Linked DNA regions of Homo sapiens. The protein of the gene in region 1 purifies or fractionates together with the protein of each later gene. This does not show direct contact. Each region holds a gene or a part of one and is shown on either strand. Other genes may lie near its edges.

Region 1 (4,499 bases):
GTAAATTGATTTTTTTAGGGCCGGAGTGGTTGGGGGAATAACTGGGATGTGACTGGTAGTGGGTGCAGGATTTCTTTTTGCGGTGATGAAAATGTTTTAAAATAGTGCGTTAATGTTTGCACAGTGGCAGTGTATACAGTGTTGTGAATGTGCTAAAAACCATTGAATAGTACATTTAAATGGGTGAACCGTATGGTATATGAGTTATATCTCAACAGAGCTGTCATTCAACAAAGGAAAAACAATGCAAGAGTGACTGTAGTCTCCATGCTATTTATAGTTACTCTGAAGTTTCTAATTAATGCTATTATACAAGGAAAAAAGATAAATATTGGAAAGGAAGCAACACATTATTACAGAAAATATTTGGCTACTCAGAACATTCAAGAGATTCATACTAGAATTAATTTTTAAAAGTTTGGTAAGGACGCAGTTATAAAAACTCATTGGGCCTTGGGCTACTAGCCTTACTGTATAAACAGGTCTTATAAATATGTAAGAAATGCTGATCACCCAGTAGCAAAGTAAACCAGTGATATGAAGACCATTCACAAAAAATACACCATGATGGATAACCATACAAAAGAATGTGCAGCATATCAGTAACAAAAGAATTCTTGTAAAAAAAAAAAAAAAACATAAGCTAGTAGGTGAAGGGCACTGTTGTCGAATGTATGCCTTTAACATACATAGACTTTCACAAGTCCTCAGGAATTTCACAATGCTCCAGAGTAAATTGTATAAGTACAGATATTTATAATACCTAATTCTTTATTGACCTCAGTAGATCTCTGAAAACTGGGAGGAAGTGAGATGGGACCCTCTAGAGCTACTCCTAGAGGGCTGGCTTGGCTCTAAGGGCTTAGAGGAGACTGAGGCAATGGGAGGTCTTGGGTCCTGTTTGCTCTTGGTGTTTTGAGGAATGTTCACGAGGTCTGCTACTCCCCTGGCTCTCCCTTGGAGTAGATGGGAAGTCTGAGACTCCCAAACTAGATCAGGACCACACCTCCTATTATTTATTCATTTTTGAGAAGGAGTTTTGCTCTTGTTGCCCAGACTGGGGTGCAGTGGTGCGATCTCGGCTCACTGCAACCTCTGCCTTCCAGTTGTAAGCAGTTATCCTGCCGCAGCCTTCCGAGTGGATGGGATTATAGGTGCCGGGCACCACGCCTGGCTAATTTTTGTATTTTTAGTAGAGACGGGGTTTCACCATGTTGGCCAGGCTGGTCTTGAACTCCCGACCTCATGATCAAAGTGCTGGGATTACAGGCGTGAGCCACCGTGCCTGGCCTATTTATTTTTTTTGAGATGGAGTCTCACTCTGTCACCCAGGCTGGAGTTCAGTGGCACGATCTTGGCTCACTGCAACCTCTGCCTCCAGGGTTCAAGTGATTTTCCTGCCTCAGCCTCCCGAGTAGCTGGGATTGCAGGCACCTGCTACCACCCCAGGCTAGTTTTTATGCTTTTATTTTATTTTATTTATTTATTTATTTATTTTGAGATGGAGTCTCACTCTGTCGCCAGGCTACGGTACGGTGGCGCAATCTCAGCGCACTGCAACCTCCGCCTCCTGGGTTCAAGCGATTCTCCTGCCTCATACTCCTGAGTAGCTGGGACTACAGGCACCCACCAACACACCCGGCTAATTTCTGTATTTTTAGTAGATACAGGGTTTCACCATGTTGGCCAGGATGGTCTCGATCTCTTTACCTCGTGATCCACCTGCCTCGGCCTCCCAAAGTGCTGGGATTACAGGCGTGAGCCACCGCTCCCGGCCAATTTTTGTATTTTTAGTAGAGACGTGGGATTTCACCACGTTGGCCAGGCTGGTCTTGAACTCCTCACCTCAGGTGATCCACTCGCCTCGGCTTCCCAAAGTGCTGGGATTACAGATGTGAGGCACTGCACCGGCCCACAGCTTCTATTTAAACTGAAGAATGGAGCGAATACAATGCGTTAGTTCCTAAGCTGCATGGAAGCAAATACCATTTTGGCTTGAGGGATGAGTCAGTGTTTCTCTGCAGGTGGTTGATCCTTGGCAGTGGTAGGATTGCTGTGCGCTGTGGTCATTACAGGAATGTTCCTCTGGTGGTTATGGTGGCTGTGTCTTACTAGAATTACCATTGCTTCAGTTTTCTCTCGCTCTGTAGAGATTGTCTTGTCATTTCCATTACATTTCATGTTAGGATGATCTCAGTGCACATGTCCTTAAAATTGGTCTGCATATGAGAGAGGTATGCTTTGTAAAAATTGTTTCCAGAAATCTCTTCTAGCAGTTTGGATTTTAGCTGAGTGGTGATAATGCCATTCATTAGGAAGATTTTGTTATAAATGAATGTAAGGATCTTGAGATGGTATGTTTTCCACATTTCTCTGATACTTTTTTCTCCCGTATGTATGTTTATACTTGCTACTAGTTTGTATGGAAGCAAAGAGCCTTAAGGCCATTTCTACAAGCTAGAAACACATAGGAAAATGTGCTTTTTTCTTTTTCATAGAATGTAATTGATACATAGTGTAAACTCAGAACATTAACACATACACTTTCTGCTTTAAATTAGAAATGTAATATAATTATAATGAAATGAAAGCGTTGACCATTGTAAAACCCAGAGAGGGTATTCTTAATAGGATCTACACATCTTTTGTGGTACCTTTAAACTCATATTTTCGTAACTGGTGAATGTTCATCTTTTAATATACACAATCCTACTCTGAGATCCGATTAACTTAAGGGGAAGTTTTTGGTTTTTATTATTGGGGGAATTCTCAAAAAATTGTATTTTGGAGTAAGTGTGAGTTTACCCTGTTATCATTTATTTCGTGAATTGCTCTTCTGCTTTACGGTAACTCTTTTCATCATGCCGATTTCTCTAGGTTGAAAATGTCCGCTTGGTAGATCGAGTGTCTCCTAAAAAAGCAGCTCTAGGTACTTTGTATTTGACGGCTACCCATGTCATATTCGTGGAAAATTCACCTGACCCAAGAAAAGAAACATGGGTATGCTTTCTTTATTTTTAGCTTTCCTTGTTTTGCGTTGTTTGAAGCAAAAAGTGTTTGCCCTCCATTCATTTTTCCTCAGGGTGAGATGGGTGGGCTTTTGTGCCTGGATGTTGGGGAACTGTTTCTGGAATGTGTGTTTGGACTTTTTCTGTGCAGTCGTATCTACTTGATCGACTATTCATTTTAAACATGAATTATTTGAACATCAGTGAAGAGAGACTTAGAACTAGCCAGAAGATACAAGTGCTTCCTGTCACAGCTGTCAAGGAGAGATTCAATAATGTCAGTAGGCCAGATTCAGCATTGTCATCCTCCAGTGCTCCATTTGCAATAGTCTCTATTTGCAGGGTCCTGTAATGCAGCCATTTGGTCATTTTATTACATTGCCTCTACTTTTCTGATAATTTTAAAAAGAAAGAAAATCTAGAGGAGCTTCATCATCAGGTATTTCTCCTACTTATTAATGAAACCATTAGATATTTGAACATCACTAAATAATAATAATTATTATTATTAATATTATTTTTGAGATGGAGTCTTACTCTGTTGCCCAGGCTGGAGTGCAGTGATGCGATCTCAGCTCACTGCAGCCTCTGCCTCCTGGGTTCAAGTGATTCTCCTGCCTCAGCCTCCTGAGTAGCTGGGACTACAGTCACGCGCCACCACGCCTGGCTGACTTTTTTGTGTTTTTAGTAGAGGCAGGGTTTCACTATGTTGTCCAGGCTGGCCTCAAACTCCTGACCTGACCTCAAGTGATCTGCCCACCTTGGCCTTCCAAAGTACTGGGATTACAGGCATGAGCCACCGTGTGTGGCCTTATTATTCTTTCAGCAACCCAATCATGACATCCCTGAATTGTAGATTTCCCTTTGCTGTATTTCGTGCACAGTGGTACATTTTTAGCAGAAGGTGGCAGGCACTTCTTAGTGGAGGGGAAACTTAAAGATTAAAATGCTGCTATTGAAGACTGAGCATAGACCCTCCTGTAACACCAGAGATGCACTTCAGTATGATTTCCTTTAAAGTTAATCTCCTCTTTAGAGAGTAGAATGATGGTTTTACCAGAGGCTGGGAGTGCAGAGGAGGGGGAGGGAATGAGGAGATATTGATTGAAGGGCACAAAGTTTCCAAAAGACAGGAGGAAAAGTCTGGAAATCTATTGCACAGCAAGGTGACCATACTCAATAGTAATGTATATTTCAAAATAATTATGAGAGTAAATTTCAAGGGTCTCACTGTAAAAAAAAAAAAAAAAAAAAAAAACTATAGGTAAGTGATGGCCATGCTCATTAGCTTGATTTAATCATTCCGTATGATGTACATATATCACAGCATCACACTGTAGCCCATAAATGTGTACAACTATGATTTGCAATAAAAATATTAATTTAAAAAATAAAAAGATAAAATAAATCCCTTCTTTTGCAGCCTGCCCGACCACCAACAGCTTAGAAAACAACAATCCCATGTTGATACAGAACTCGAACATTCCATGT
Region 2 (4,499 bases), on another chromosome or scaffold:
GGAATATGTACTTTTGATTTTTGATACTGAAATATCAAATCATGAAAATGCCTTTTCTTCTAAACAGATTATTCCTGGTAAAAAATATGCAGCCAGAATTGCCCCTAACCACCTAAATGTTTATATCAATCTGGCTAACCTGATCCGAGCAAATGAGTCCCGACTGGAAGAAGCAGATCAGCTGTACCGTCAAGCAATAAGCATGAGGCCCGACTTCAAGCAGGCTTACATTAGCAGGTATCCCAGTTCAACTTTAAGCTATCATTATGGAATATTGAAACTGCATCTCCATGTACATTTTGAATGAATTGGTTTTTTTTGAAAAAAAATTATGTTTTTAATAATCTTACTTAGCAACCAAGTGCATAGAAGAGCATAACTTTTTAGACTGACAGTCAGATTTTATTGATTTGAAATTAACAAGGGGAATCCCTAACTTGTAATAGCCAACTTAGGTTTTGTATTAAGGAAAGGGTAGAAGCAGCTCTGTCTTAGTTGCATTTTCTTCCCATCACCAAAATTGTTCTTTTCCTATTTAAATTAAAACTTGAAACTTACATTTTATAATAGTTACTTCTAATATCAAACTCTCAGGAACTTTCTTGTTTTTAGAGTTGATTGGTTATTGATGCCTTTGACACAAAGAAAACATCTTGGTTCTCAGCAAAAAAAAAAGTTTTCTGGCACCACATGTTAAAACTTCATTTATTTTCTCATGTATGTGTTATCATTTGTATTACTTTTGAGGAAAAATGTGTTTTTAAACTTCGTTTTGTAGCCTGGTCCAGAAAACTAATAGTAATTTGTAACATTTTTTCCTTTGGGGAAAGTACATTCTGAATTTAAGTTTTTGAGATAAAATCTGTTTGTAAGTTGGGGTTTTCTTTGTTCCGCCGTGCCTATTGAGTTTATTAGCAGGGTTGTATCTATAAATAACACCTGTCATGTATTAATTCATAAAGAACTATTCAACAATCTCTACATTAAAAAAATAATATTTTGGACAAACATTCATTCTAGAAGTGGTTTTAATGAGAATATTAATTGTTGTTCCTTTTATTTCTGTGCTGATACTATAGGAAAGAGTAGTATTATAAGAACAACTCTCATATCACTACTTAAATATTATTTGTACATATGTAAAAATAATTCTTTAAGCAAAATTACTTTTTAAAATTTTCTAACAGAAAATAGAACCACACTAGAAAGATTTATACAATGGTTTCTTAACTGGTCCTCAATTCTAAGTGTGTTCCTCAAAGTTATCTACAGGTCAGATTAATCCCTCCCACTCTACCTGTTCAGCTTTTTTTTAGTCCTTTTTCTGTTTGTTTGTTTGTTTGTGACAGAGTCTCACATTGTTACCCAGGCTGGAGTGCAGTGGTGTGATCTCGGCTAACTGCTACCTCTGCCTCCTGGGTTCAAGTAATTCTTGTTCCTCAGCCTCACTATTAGCTGGGACTACAGGCGCGTGCCACCATGCCTGGCAAATTTCTGTATTTTTAGTAGAGACAGAGTTTTGCCATGTTGGTCAGCTGGTCTCCAACTCCTGACCTCAAGTGATCTGCCCACCTCAGCCTCCCAAAGTGCTGGGATTACAGGAACGAGCCACCATGCCCAGCATTTTTCTTTTTTTTTTTTTCTTTTTTTTTTTTAAGAATGGTCGTATTATAAGAAGACATTGATGAGGACTAAATTAATATAAGAAGGGGTTACAGATTTTTAATATTTTGGTTTTTTGCATAGTGAGCCTTCTATTATACATTCAAATATTGGAATTTCTCTTACCACTACTATATGTCATTTTTTTCTTCTAATGCTGTTATTTTGTCACCTGACAAATTCATTAATCTTTCACTCTGGCTAGCTGCCCTTTTTCTGATGCAGTTTAGTCTGTCTCCTTTTTAAGATAAAGTCAAAGAATATATTTGCTCTGTCCTCCTTCCTGGATTCCTCCTGATAGGTTGCCCTCTGAAATCAGGCATAATTTTTTTCTTCTTAAATAATATTTGAAAATATATCAAGCCAAATATACTGAACTAAGGAGTTCAGATTTGAGGACAGTTTCAAAGAGTTGTTTTCGAAAGAGAGTTTTTTAAGAGTCTGAGTTAAGAGAAAAAAAAGCTGTATGTGGAAAGGCTTAAAACTTGGCAAAAATTGTATCTACAAACTGAGATGGTAATGTTGTAAGTAAAGCTTGTGTTTGATTTTTCCACAGAGGAGAATTGCTTTTAAAAATGAATAAACCTCTTAAAGCAAAGGAAGCATATCTTAAAGCACTAGAGCTGGACAGAAATAATGCAGATCTTTGGTACAACTTGGCAATTGTACATATTGAACTTAAAGAACCAAATGAAGCCCTAAAAAACTTTAATCGTGCTCTGGAACTAAATCCAAAGCATAAACTAGCATTATTCAACTCTGCTATAGTAATGCAAGAATCAGGTATGTTTTCTCAAAATATTTCTGTTTATATAAATTGTAGTTTATAATATAATAAGACCTTAATTTAACTTTATTACCCATAGCAAACACTTTATGTATTGACAGTTTATAGCAATACTGTGCTTAACTGATTTATAGAAAGAATATTTAAAATACTTGAAGTAAACTATTTTCAAGTAACATGCATTCTAACATATGATAATACTGATTTTTAATTCTTCTGGCATGTGTTAAGACTAATTTTTCAGGCAGTCTATTAAGCAACATTAACTATTTTGTCATTTTATATACATAAACATAATGTAACTTATATATAAACTCTCCAAATAATATGAACTTGTGAAATTTTTTACATAATTGGCTGTGAGGAGCCAAGAGCATATGTTTTCAAAAAAATAGCATTTTATTTTCTTTTGATTCATAAGAGCAAATACTTTTGGCACCATTTTATATCCAGTTTTACTACGTTTTCTGAGATGTTGTAATTTTTTATATTTCCTATAATTTAGCAAAACTAAATTATTAACCACAGTAAATCTGGATCCTTCATCCATATTTTATATAGGAATTTCAGTTCTGCCTCATAAGATAGTGTATATGATTTATAATCTTTTTAATTTATAAATTAGAAAAATCTATTATAATGTTTAGTTATTTCTTAGATACATTTCGTAAAACTTTTGTAAAATATGAAAGAATCATAAAGTCGTAGTATTTTAGAGCTAAAGAGGACCTTTGAGTTTGCATTTGCCAGTCTTCTATTTAGTAGAGTGAAAACCAAATAGATTTTATGACTGCCCCAAAGTCATATGGCTAAATAGGTAACCCAAGACAAGAACTGAAGCCTCCTGATTTATTTTCAAATTTTCTTTATCCATCGTGCTGCCAAATAAAAGAATAGAGAGAAGTCTTTATGCCTGGTGTCCAAAAAAGTAGAAATTTGGAGAAAAGCTAATATTTTTGTAAGGTTTTCTACCTTGATAATCATGAAGGATGCTCATTATTCGACACAAGATTGTACTATAAGGTTTGTAATTGTAGAACTTGAACTTTTTTGTTTTTTTGGCTTTTTTTTTGCAATAGAAATTATCTCAATGGAGATTTGTTTCCTGCCAGGCAGTGGCTGATGCCTGTAATCCTAACACTTAGGGAGGCCAGGGTGGGGAGGATCACTAGAGGCCAAGAGTTTGAGAATAGCCTAGGCAACATAGTAAAACTCTGTCTCCACAAAAAATTTTAAAATCAGCAAGAAATGATGGCACATGCCTGTAGTCCCAGCTACTCGGGAAGCCAAGGTGGGAGGATTGCTTGAGCCCAGGAGTTTGAGGTTACAGTGACCTGTGGACACAGCACTGCCCTCCAGCCTGAGTGACATAGTGAGACCCTGTCTCAAAAAAAAGAAGATACATGTTTCCTAAATCCTAATTTTATAGCCCTATATTTAATGGTATGTTTTTGTCCTCGAAACATTCCTAAAACTTTGAAGTAACATTTTTTAAAATGTGATACAGTCATTCTGAAGCTTTTTTCTACCCAGTAATAGTTACTATTTGCTGAACATTTTTTCGATATACAACATACAATTATTAGAAAACTCAGTTAACCCAGAGAAGTTAAGTAACATGTTCAGTGTATAAAGTCATAATGTTATCAGAATCAAGATTGAATACATGTCTTTGTTGGCAAATCCCATGCTTCTTTTTCTGAATTCTCTATTTTCCTTCTATTTCCAATTGAATTCTAAATTATAAGAGACATTTCTCTCCTTTTGGTTTCTGAAGCACTGTTACTGCTTTAAAGGAAAAGAAATAAGCTATCTTTTTACTGTTTCAAATATTTTGCTTTTCCTATGAAGACTTCGAGATTTTTGCTTTCTACTTTTTTTAACTATGGAAATTAGTTGTTTTGAAGCTGTCTTTTTGTAATCTAAGTATTTGAAAATGGCTTTGTTCCTCACATTTAATTATTTTATTAACAATATATTTTTTCTTTAAAAAAACTTTCTAGGTGAGGTTAAACTCAGACCTGAAGCTAGAAAACGACTTCTAAGTTAT
Region 3 (5,035 bases), on another chromosome or scaffold:
TGTAACTTGGACTAGTTTTATTCCCACCTTATCTGGGAATTATAAGGGTATAAGGTTGTAAAAATATAAAGTTAACAATCTGACCCTCACTTGGGAATCATAAAATTACAATCTGATATCCACTTTACTTGGAACTTATGGTCAGCCCTCTGTATCCTCAATCAACCTGGGACTGAAAGTATTTGAAAAAATTACAATAACAAAAAATAATAAAAAATCATAGAAATAAAAAAGTACAGTGTAATATCTATTTACATAGCATTTACATTGTATTAGGTATTATAAGTACAGCAGGTCCTGGAATAACATCATTTCATCATTTTGCTCAGTGGTTTTCTTATAATGATGAGAAAAAAATAGATTTCTGGCTGGGTCCACTGTCACGTTTTATCCATGTCTGTGTGGATTTTCTCTGTCTTCTGGTGTCCTGTCACATCCCAAAGCCGTGCAGTGCACTTTAGGTAAATTGGTGCATCTACACGATCCGAGTGTGAGTGTGGGTGTGTGTGAGCACACCCTGTGAGGTGCCCTGAGTTGGAATAAGCCGGTAAAAATGATCTCACTTTTATTAATCTTTATTTTTCTCTAAGCGAGAGGGATAGGGGGTGTTTAAAAAAAACTTTTTCTTTGAGACAGAGCTGTGCTCTGTCGCCCAGGCTAGAGTACAGTGACATGATCTCGGCTCACTGCAACCTCTGGCTCCTGGGTTCAAGCGATTCTCCTGCCTCAGCCTCCCGAGTAGCTGAGAATACAGGCACGCGCCACCACACCCAGCCAATTTTCTGTATTTTTAGTAGAGATGGGGTTTCGCCATGTTGGCCAAGCTGGTCTTGAACTTCTGGCCTCACGTGATCTGCCCACCTCAGCCTCCCAAAGTGTTGGGATTATAGGCGTGAGCTAAAAATCTTCCTTAAATATATGCATGGCTCACACTTATTTCAATGTTTAATATTAGAAGTGTTTTGGTCTTTATTTCGAAGTTTAGGGGCGATTTTGTGACCACAGATATGTTGTAGGAACTTCACTCATATCAATTAGCCTGTGGTCAAACTGTTTTCCTTACAGTCATTTGGCTTAAAGTTTCAGTTTCCAAGAACCCCTCCACGATGTTAGGTGAGGACTTAGGGAATGTGGAGATGACCTAAAGTTTATGATGGGAAGATGTGTGTAGGTGATATGCAAACACTTTTTTTTTTTTTTTTTTTTACCAAGGACTTGAGCATTTGTGGACGTGGGTCCCCTGGAGGGGCCCTGGAACCAATCAGGACTATAAAATCCTTTTAAGGTTTTAAGAAGAGCATTGTTATCTCTGTGGTACTGACGAAGACCCCGCAAGCTCACCGAGATTAAGTGCCCCTGCCTAAGGTTACAAAGCCTCTTATCCTCAGGCCACCTCCAGTACAGCAAATCCAAGCCCTCCCGTCTAAACTTGGCGCCCTGAGTACCAAGGGTCACCTCGGCCTTTCAGGCTGAAGGGAGGGAGGCTGAGTCTCAGGGCAGAGTCTGAGTCCCACTCCGCACCCCACCCTCTGTCTGGTACAGCTTACCAAACCAAAGTGCCCAAAGCCGTGACATCCCGGCCGGCGGCTCGCAGGCCCCCGCCCTCCGCACGTCACGGCCGCCGGGTGCAGTGCCCCCTAGGGGCCCCTGGGACGAGGAGGAAGCGCCAGGTCCTTCCCGCCGCCGCCGCCGCCGCCGCCGCCTGCTCCCCTGGCACGCGCCCCGCCGCCCTCGGCAGCCGCAGCTCCGTGTCCCCTGAGAACCAGCCGTCCCGCGCCATGGGCACGCGTCTGCCGCTCGTCCTGCGCCAGCTCCGCCGCCCGCCCCAGCCCCCGGGCCCTCCGCGCCGCCTCCGTGTGCCCTGTCGCGCTAGCAGCGGCGGCGGCGGAGGCGGCGGCGGTGGCCGGGAGGGCCTGCTTGGACAGCGGCGGCCGCAGGATGGCCAGGCCCGGAGCAGCTGCAGCCCCGGCGGCCGAACGCCCGCGGCGCGGGACTCCATCGTCAGGTGAGTGTCGGGTCTGGCCCTGGCCCAGGTCTCCAGCGGCTGTGGCCCCGACCCAGGGGCGGAGCGCCCGGGACCGCCGTGGGGAGCGGGGCGCGGGGCTGCGAGTGTTTGGTGCCAACTCATTAGGGGGGCCGGGCGGTGTGTCGGGAAACGCGGGCTTGGGCACTGCGGCCGGGAGCGCTGGCGGAGAACGGGGGATCCAGTACCCGACCGGGCCCGCAGCGCAGGTGGGCGTGGGCATCTCCAATGGGCGCCTAGCGGCATGGACCGCACGCCCGGCTCCACGTGCGCAGCCGGCCGCCGGCTCTGATGCAATCGCGCCGGGCGCGACCCAGACGGTAAAGGGGCGGTGCGGCTGGGGCGGAAACCAGGGGAGGGGGCGAGGAGCAGGAGGAGGGCGGGGCTGCGGCTCGGCGCGCCGGCTGGCCCGGGGTTCGGGAAGGGCAAGCGGAGCTCGGGAGAGGCGGGCTCGGGCCCAGCGCCGCCCGCGCGAAGCTCCCTGGTGTTGTGCGCCCTTCCCCGCGCGCGGCCCCTCCTGCTGGGCTGGGGTCTGTGGCTGACGTCCGCTTTTCCCGGAACGGCAAAGGTGGAGCCGGGCCCCCGGGACAGCCGCCGGGGGGAATCCGAGAGGTCTCAGCGCTGGTTTCCAGCTTCGCCGCGCAGCGCCCACGGAGTCCCCGCGCAGCTGGGTTTGCAGGGTTTTCTGCGGGCCCAGAGCGAACTGGGAGCCCCGGGCCCGGCCTTTCCCGTCCCGGTCCCCGCCCCTGGGCTCCAGCCTTCCCCGCCCTCGCCCAGAGGGGCGCACGGGTCTCGGGCCTTGCAGGGCGAGCCCTTCGGGACAACTTGGGGGTGGCAAGAAAGCCCCTTCCGCCTCCCTCGGAACTGGGATTAGGAACGAGTTCCAGGATGCGGTTTCCCCGGCCAGCGGACCACCTCCTCCATTCACATCCTCTTCCCTTTCCTTCTAGCCTTCTTTCTTAGTCATTGCCTGCTTGCCTTTCTCTCTGCCTTTCCTTCCTCCCTCTGCTCTCCCATTTTCCTCCCCACTCCCCTTCTCCCATCTCAGTAAAATACGTTTCCTAGGCTCTTTATTATGTGGCGGATGATTTTAAGGGGCCATTTATTTAGTTTTTCTTGTTCTCTGTCTTCTTTTTCTTTTAGAAATGGAGTCTCGCTTTGTTGCTCAGGCTGGAGTTCAGTGGTGCCATCTCGGCTCAATGCAGCCTCCGCCTCCTGGGCTCAAGCGATTCTCCCGCCTTAGCCTCCAGTGTAACTGGGACCACAGGTGTGCGCTACCATGCCCGGATTATTTTATTTTATTTTCATAGAGACAGAGCACCACTCTGTTACCAGGCTGGTCTGGAACTCCTGGGCGCAAGCCATCATCCCTGCCCCCAAAAGCGCTGGGATTAATTACACGTCAGGTCATTAGGTTTTAACCTGCACGTTGCTGAGACTCATCTTACCGGTTAGAGTCTGAAGCCAGGATAGGCGGCAAAAAAACTTCTCCCGTCATGCTGTTTTATTTTCTAGGTAAACTGATTATTACCTGAAACTTCCTTCTTTGCTCATTTCTTGTCTGTCTCACCCACCTGGAATATGAGCTTCATGAGACAGCCGTCTCTTCGGTGCTATATCCTAGGTCCTGGAGAGAGTGCCCAGCATGTAATAAGCACTTGTGAAATGGTTACAGAAGGAATGCTTCAAGATTTGGGGTCATCTGTGGGTTTTATTCATACATATTCTTTTTTTTTTTTTTTTTTTTTGAGACGGAGTCTTGCTCTGTCACTCAGGCTGGAGTGCAATGGCACGATCTTGGCTCCCTGCAACCTCTGCCTCCCAGGTTCAGGCGATTCCCCTGCCTCAGCCTCCCGAGTAGCTGGGATTACAGGAGCACGCCACCACGCCCGGCTAATTTTTGTATTTTGAGTAAAGACAGGATGTCTCACCATGTTGGCCAGGCTGGTCTTGAACTCCTGACCTCAGGTGATCCGACTGCCTTGGCCTCCCAAAGTGTTGGGATTACAGGCGTGACCCACCGCGCCTGGGCTATTCATGCATACTTTTAGGTTTAAAGCCATGACTGCCTTAGAGATGAGTAAAGAGGTTAGTAGGGGGCTTTAGGGCCTGCACTGGGTTCTCCAAACTCAATTCCTTCAGGAAAATGGGAGGAGTAACAGTACTTACCTCAAGGGGTTATGGAAACAATTATGTGAGAGGACACATGCAAAATACATAGCCCAGGACTGTCACATACAAGACAAGTCCCTCAACAAATGGTGGCTATTAATTTTTTTTTTTTTTTTTTGAGACGGAATCTCACTCTGTCGCACAGGTTGGAGTGCAGTGGCGGGATCTCGGCTCACTGCAACCTCCGCCTCCCGGGTTCAAGCGATTCCCCTGCCTCAGCCTCCTGAGTAGCTGGGATTACAGGCTCGCACTACCACGCCTGGCTTATTTTGTGTTTTTAGTAGAGACGGGGTTTCACCATGTTGGCCAGGCTGGTCTCAAACTCCTGACCTCGTGATCTGCCTGCCTCAGCCTCCCAAAGTGCTGGGATTACAGGTGTGAGCTACCATGCCCAGCAATATTTTTACAATTCACTAAGCCAGGGGTCCACAGACGTTTTATATATAATGGGCCAGATAGTAAATATTTTAGGTTTAGTGATCCTAGAGGCAAATCAAAATTATTAGTAGGTACATTTATAACAAGAGAAAAGACAAATTTAGGCCAGGCACCATGGTTCATGCCTGTAATCCCAGCACTTTGAGAGGCCAAAGTGGGATGATCACATTCCCAGGAGTTCAAGACCAGCCTGGGCAACATAGTGAGACACCCATCTCTGTAAAAAATTTTAAAAAATTAACTGGGCGTGGCGCGTGCCTGTAGTTCCAGCTACTCAGAAGGCTGAGGCAGGAGGATCACTTGAGCCCAGGAGGTCAAGGCTACAGTGAGCGGAGATTGCGCTACTGCACTGCAGCCTGGGCAATGGAGTGAGACCTTATTTTTTATTTTTGCAATTAAGTA
Region 4 (4,499 bases), on another chromosome or scaffold:
CTTTTTGTAAAAGTCATTTAAATTATAAAATATTTTCATAATTAAAAACTTCACTTTTGAAATGTCAGATTCATTGTTTTGTCATGTAACTATATAATAAAGGTTTTATTTTAATTTGTTTATACACTTATCAGGATTTTCTGACTTTACTGGCTATCTATAATGCATTTGACTAATGGAAAGGACACTTGCAGGAGACTTTCTTTGAAGAGACATCTTTTTCCTCCTGCTTTTGTAGATTCGTTTTGTAATGAAGGCCCACTCATTTGTCAGAGAGAACGTGCCTCGGGTACTAAATTCAGCTAAGGAGAAATCAAGTATGTAATTTCTTTTGTTCATTATTTCTTCCTCCCCTCCCCTCCTCTCCCCCCACCCCATTCCCTTCCCTTCCCTTCCCTTCTTTCCTTCTTTCCTTCCCTCCCTCCCTCTCTCTTTTTCTCTTTCTCTTTCTCTCTCTCTCTCTTTTTCTTTTCTTTTCTTTGTGTAATTTCATTAGTTTAAAGGATTATTGGCTGGATATTTCACCCTTTGTTGTTTTCTGGGATGTCACATTATATAATGTAGAGATTGTGTTTTATTTCAAATATATATTATCCATATTGATTTTGAGGACCACTTCATTGTTTCCTGACTATTCCGGCTTTGCCCTTGAACCTACAATTTTAAAAAATTGATTATCTTTTGCAACTTTGCATTATTTTTATGGAATGTTAATAGCCTCATTACACCTGTGCCTGCCTATTCTTTGCAAATTGTTGCTTCACACTCTAGAAGTTATCTCAGTCACAGGAATAACTTGGTTTAAAGAGATTGGTAATATTCAATTCGTGCAAGAATAAGAAGTCATTCCGGAGATCAGGAAAAAAGAACATGAGCTGATAAGTCATTTTATTCTTCCCTGTTCTGTGCTTCCTTATATTCCCCCCTGTATTTTTGCTGTGAAAAATCAAAGAGCCTTTGCTCTAACTATAGTTTTCCTTTTCTAGGCACTGTTCCAATACCTACAGTCAACCAGTATTTGTACTTCTTATTTGCTCCTACCCTTATCTACCGTGACAGCTATCCCAGGTAATGGTACTGTGAACCAGAAATGTGGTAAACACCAAAAGTGTGGCATGAGTGAGGTGGGATAGGTAAACAGGGGCCAGTTCATGTAGGGACATAGAAAATATAGAATGAGTTTTCATTTTCTGTCTGACCTGAGAAGCCTCAAATGGTGAGTAGGGAAGTCTAATTTGATTATAGTAATTCTTGACAGAATTATAAAGTATTTCATATGGTCATAAATGATGTTCTGAATTAATTAATTTTTATTTATTTTTATTATTTTTAATTTATTTTTTATTAATTAATTAATTTTAGTTTTTTCTGAGATGGGAGTCTTGCTCTGTCACCCAGGAGTGCAGTGGTGCTATGTCGGCTCCCTGCAACCTCTGCCTCCTGGGTTCAAGTGATTCTCCTGCCTCAGCATCCCAAGTAGCTGGCATTACAGGTGTGTGCCACCACGCCCGGTTGGTTTTTTTGTATTTTTATTAGAGACGGGGTTTCACCATATTGGCCAGGCTGGTCTCGAACTCCTGGTCACTGCCTTCCAAAGTGCTTGGATTACAGGTGTGAGCCACCGCGCCTGACCAAAAAACATTAATTGTGAGGGTCTTTATTCAAGTTCAATTACTTTATTTAGAAACCTTATTTTTGTTTCTTTCTTTTTCAGGAATCCCACTGTAAGATGGGGTTATGTCGCTATGAAGTTTGCACAGGTAAGTTTTTGTAACTGCCTAAGGTATGTTGATTAGGGGATGGGGATTCATATTTATGATAATAATATAATCTAGTTAAATCTAATTGGGAGCTAAGAATGCTTTCTGTTGACATTATGCAGTCTTTTAAACTATTTCCAGTACGGTAAATGGTGTTTGTTTTGCCAACATCAAAAGTAATTTTCTTTAATAAAAGAATATATTAGGCTGGGCGCAGTGGCTTGCGCCTGTAATCCCAGCACTTTGGGAGGCCTAGGTGGGCAGATCGCGAGGTCAGGAGTTCAAGACCAGCCTGGCCAACATGGTGAAACCCCATCTCTACTAAAAATACAAAAATTAGCCTGGCGTGGAGGCACGTACCTGTAATCTCAGCTACTCAGGAGGCTGAGGCAGGAGAATTGCTTGAACCTGGGATATGGAGGTTACAGTGAGCTGAGATCACTCCTCTGCACTCCAGCCTGGGCGACAGAGCAAGACTCCATCTAAAAAAAAAAAGAATGTATTATTTATAAAGTAATTCTAATTGGTTATTTCAGTAAGCATTAATTTCCCCCTTCCTTCCTGTTTTTGGGGGAGGTATATATGTATGTGGGTATAGTCTGACTCTTACCCATTCCTCCTCCCACCTCCATCAGAATCATTAATCCTGGAAGATCCCATTTTAAATTAGTGTCTCAATCAAATGCCCATTTATGAAGTAAGTTCTTTCATTAAGGGGTTTTTTTTTTTTTTTTTTTTTTTTTTTTTTTTTTTTTTTGAGAAGGAGTCCTGCTCTGTTACCGATGCTGGAGTGCAGTGATGCAGTCTTGGCTCACTGCAACCTCTACCTCCTGTGTTCAAACGATTCTCCTGCATCAGCCTCCTGAGTAGCTGGGATTACAGGTGCCCACCACTGCGCCTGGCTAATTTTTGTATTTTTAGTACAGATGGGGTTTCACCATGTTGGCCAGGCTGGTCTCGAACTCTGACCTCAAGTCATCCACCCGCCTCAGCCTCCCAAAGTGCTGGGATTACAAGCGTGAGCCACTGTGCCCGGCCATGTTACGGGTTTTAAGCAGCAGGAAAACAGGTTCCAAGAGTAAGCTCTTCTAAAAATATCATTTGGTAAAGGGTTAGGAAAAGTGATGGTAGAAACTAGGCTTGAGTAATCTCCCTGAAGGATTATAGCAGTCTTCTATACTAGTGTTAAATGGAATACATATGCGAACATTACTGTAAGGGTCACATCTGTACTTTCTTTTGGAGAGAAAAAAATCGCCTTCCATCTTATTAAGCCATCGTTATTATAATTCTGTCTCTGTTATGTTCCAGGTCTTTGGTTGCTTTTTCTATGTGTACTACATCTTTGAAAGGCTTTGTGCCCCCTTGTTTCGGAATATCAAACAGGAGCCCTTCAGCGCTCGTGTTCTGGTCCTATGTGTATTTAACTCCATCTTGCCAGGTAACATGGGTACTTGTTAATTTGGTCATGCATAAATTCACGAGGTAAATAGAAAGCTATTGCCTATGAGCACCTTTGCTTTGCCTACTTTTTCATCTAAACTTCTATACATCTATGCCCATCTTGACCTCTTTTGCATCTACTTTATAAATGAAGTATCCTTCATCCAGTCTCAGGTCAGTCTTTCATCTTATGGCTTTCACTCAAGTTGTGCCTTTCTCTGACAGTGGACAGTCCACATTCATGCTGTGTCTTCCTGTTCGCTATTAAGTTCATTGTAATCTTGCTCCTGATTCCACCAAGCCACTTAAATGCCCCTTGTTGAAATTACTAGTAACTTGTAGAAATTACTTGTAGAAATTACTAGTAATCCATATTCTAATCCAGTGGATGGATTAAGATGTACTTTACCCCTTATCCAAGTTGACCTCCATGAAGCATTGGGTGCTGCTGACCACATTTTTAAATCTCTCTTGTCACTGTTTTCTTGCCTTTTTTTTTTTTGAAATCGGGTCTCTCTTTGTCACCCAGTCTGAATGCAGTGGTGTCATCATGGCTTACTAGCCTCGACCTCTGGGGCTCGAGTGATCCTCTCGCCTCAGTAGCTGGGACTACAGGTGCATGCCACCATGCCTGGCTAAGTTTTTATTTTTTGGAGAGACGGGGTCTCCCTATGTTGCCCAGGCCATTCTCAAACTCCTGGGCTCAAGTTATCCTCCTGTCTCAGCCTCTCAAAGTGCTGGGGTTACAGGCTTGAGCCACCATGCTTGGCCTTTTGCCACTATTTCTTATTTTCCTCCTGTCTTTCCGACCATACCTTGATTTCTTAAATATATTTATTGCATTTTTTTGTCTATTATAGAGATATATGAGTACCTAGTACTATGCCAGGTGCAGAGGACTCAGAAGTGAACAAGAGATGTATTATCTTTACAGTCTGGGAGCTTTTATAGTTTCCCTTACTTTTCCTCTTTTCTTTACTCATTGAATGTTGGTAATGTTTTCTGTCATCACCTTCCCTTTCTTTTCTTCTCTTGCATTCCTCTTCCAGTAACCCTCCCTCACCAGCCCCAGGACTTATTTGAATGAACTCTGTATCTGTCCCTAAAATAGAATATGTGTTACATACTTGAGTGTCTTCCTCACTAGCTGCAAAGTTATTGAGTTCAAGGATTGTGTTTTATAGCCAATCACAGTCTCTCTCATATTGTCTGGTACATAGTTGATGCTCTATAAATATATATTTTTCAATAAATGAGTGAAAGAGATGGACATATAAATGGATATTTTACAATATA

Evidence for each region.
Region 2: the proteins of MTMR7 (region 1) and TMTC3 purify together in Homo sapiens (affinity purification with mass spectrometry, with the first as the bait; one large-scale study listed by BioGRID). This does not show direct contact.
Region 3: the proteins of MTMR7 (region 1) and MTHFD1L purify together in Homo sapiens (affinity purification with mass spectrometry, with the first as the bait; 2 studies listed by BioGRID). This does not show direct contact.
Region 4: the proteins of MTMR7 (region 1) and SOAT1 purify together in Homo sapiens (affinity purification with mass spectrometry, with the first as the bait; one large-scale study listed by BioGRID). This does not show direct contact.

What each region holds. Positions count from the first base shown.
Region 1 is NC_000008.11:17,371,619-17,376,117, reverse strand, and holds part of MTMR7 (phosphatidylinositol-3-phosphate phosphatase MTMR7), read left to right. Parts: intron 1-2,877; coding exon 2,878-3,000; intron 3,001-4,499. UniProt on the Homo sapiens protein: Lipid phosphatase that specifically dephosphorylates the D-3 position of phosphatidylinositol 3-phosphate (PtdIns(3)P) and inositol 1,3-bisphosphate (Ins(1,3)P2).
Region 2 is NC_000012.12:88,190,386-88,194,884, forward strand, and holds part of TMTC3 (protein O-mannosyl-transferase TMTC3), read left to right. Parts: intron 1-67; coding exon 68-237; intron 238-2,218; coding exon 2,219-2,445; intron 2,446-4,452; coding exon 4,453-4,499. UniProt on the Homo sapiens protein: Transfers mannosyl residues to the hydroxyl group of serine or threonine residues.
Region 3 is NC_000006.12:150,864,045-150,869,079, forward strand, and holds the start of MTHFD1L (monofunctional C1-tetrahydrofolate synthase, mitochondrial isoform 2 precursor), read left to right. Parts: upstream 1-1,657; 5' UTR 1,658-1,778; coding exon 1,779-2,005; intron 2,006-2,288; exon of another isoform or gene 2,289-2,314; coding exon of another isoform or gene 2,315-2,343; intron 2,344-2,402; exon of another isoform or gene 2,403-3,168; coding exon of another isoform or gene 3,169-3,290; exon of another isoform or gene 3,291-3,538; intron 3,539-5,035. UniProt on the Homo sapiens protein: May provide the missing metabolic reaction required to link the mitochondria and the cytoplasm in the mammalian model of one-carbon folate metabolism complementing thus the enzymatic activities of MTHFD2.
Region 4 is NC_000001.11:179,341,876-179,346,374, forward strand, and holds part of SOAT1 (sterol O-acyltransferase 1), read left to right. Parts: intron 1-134; exon of another isoform or gene 135-238; coding exon 239-317; intron 318-986; coding exon 987-1,068; intron 1,069-1,714; coding exon 1,715-1,760; intron 1,761-3,071; coding exon 3,072-3,201; intron 3,202-4,499.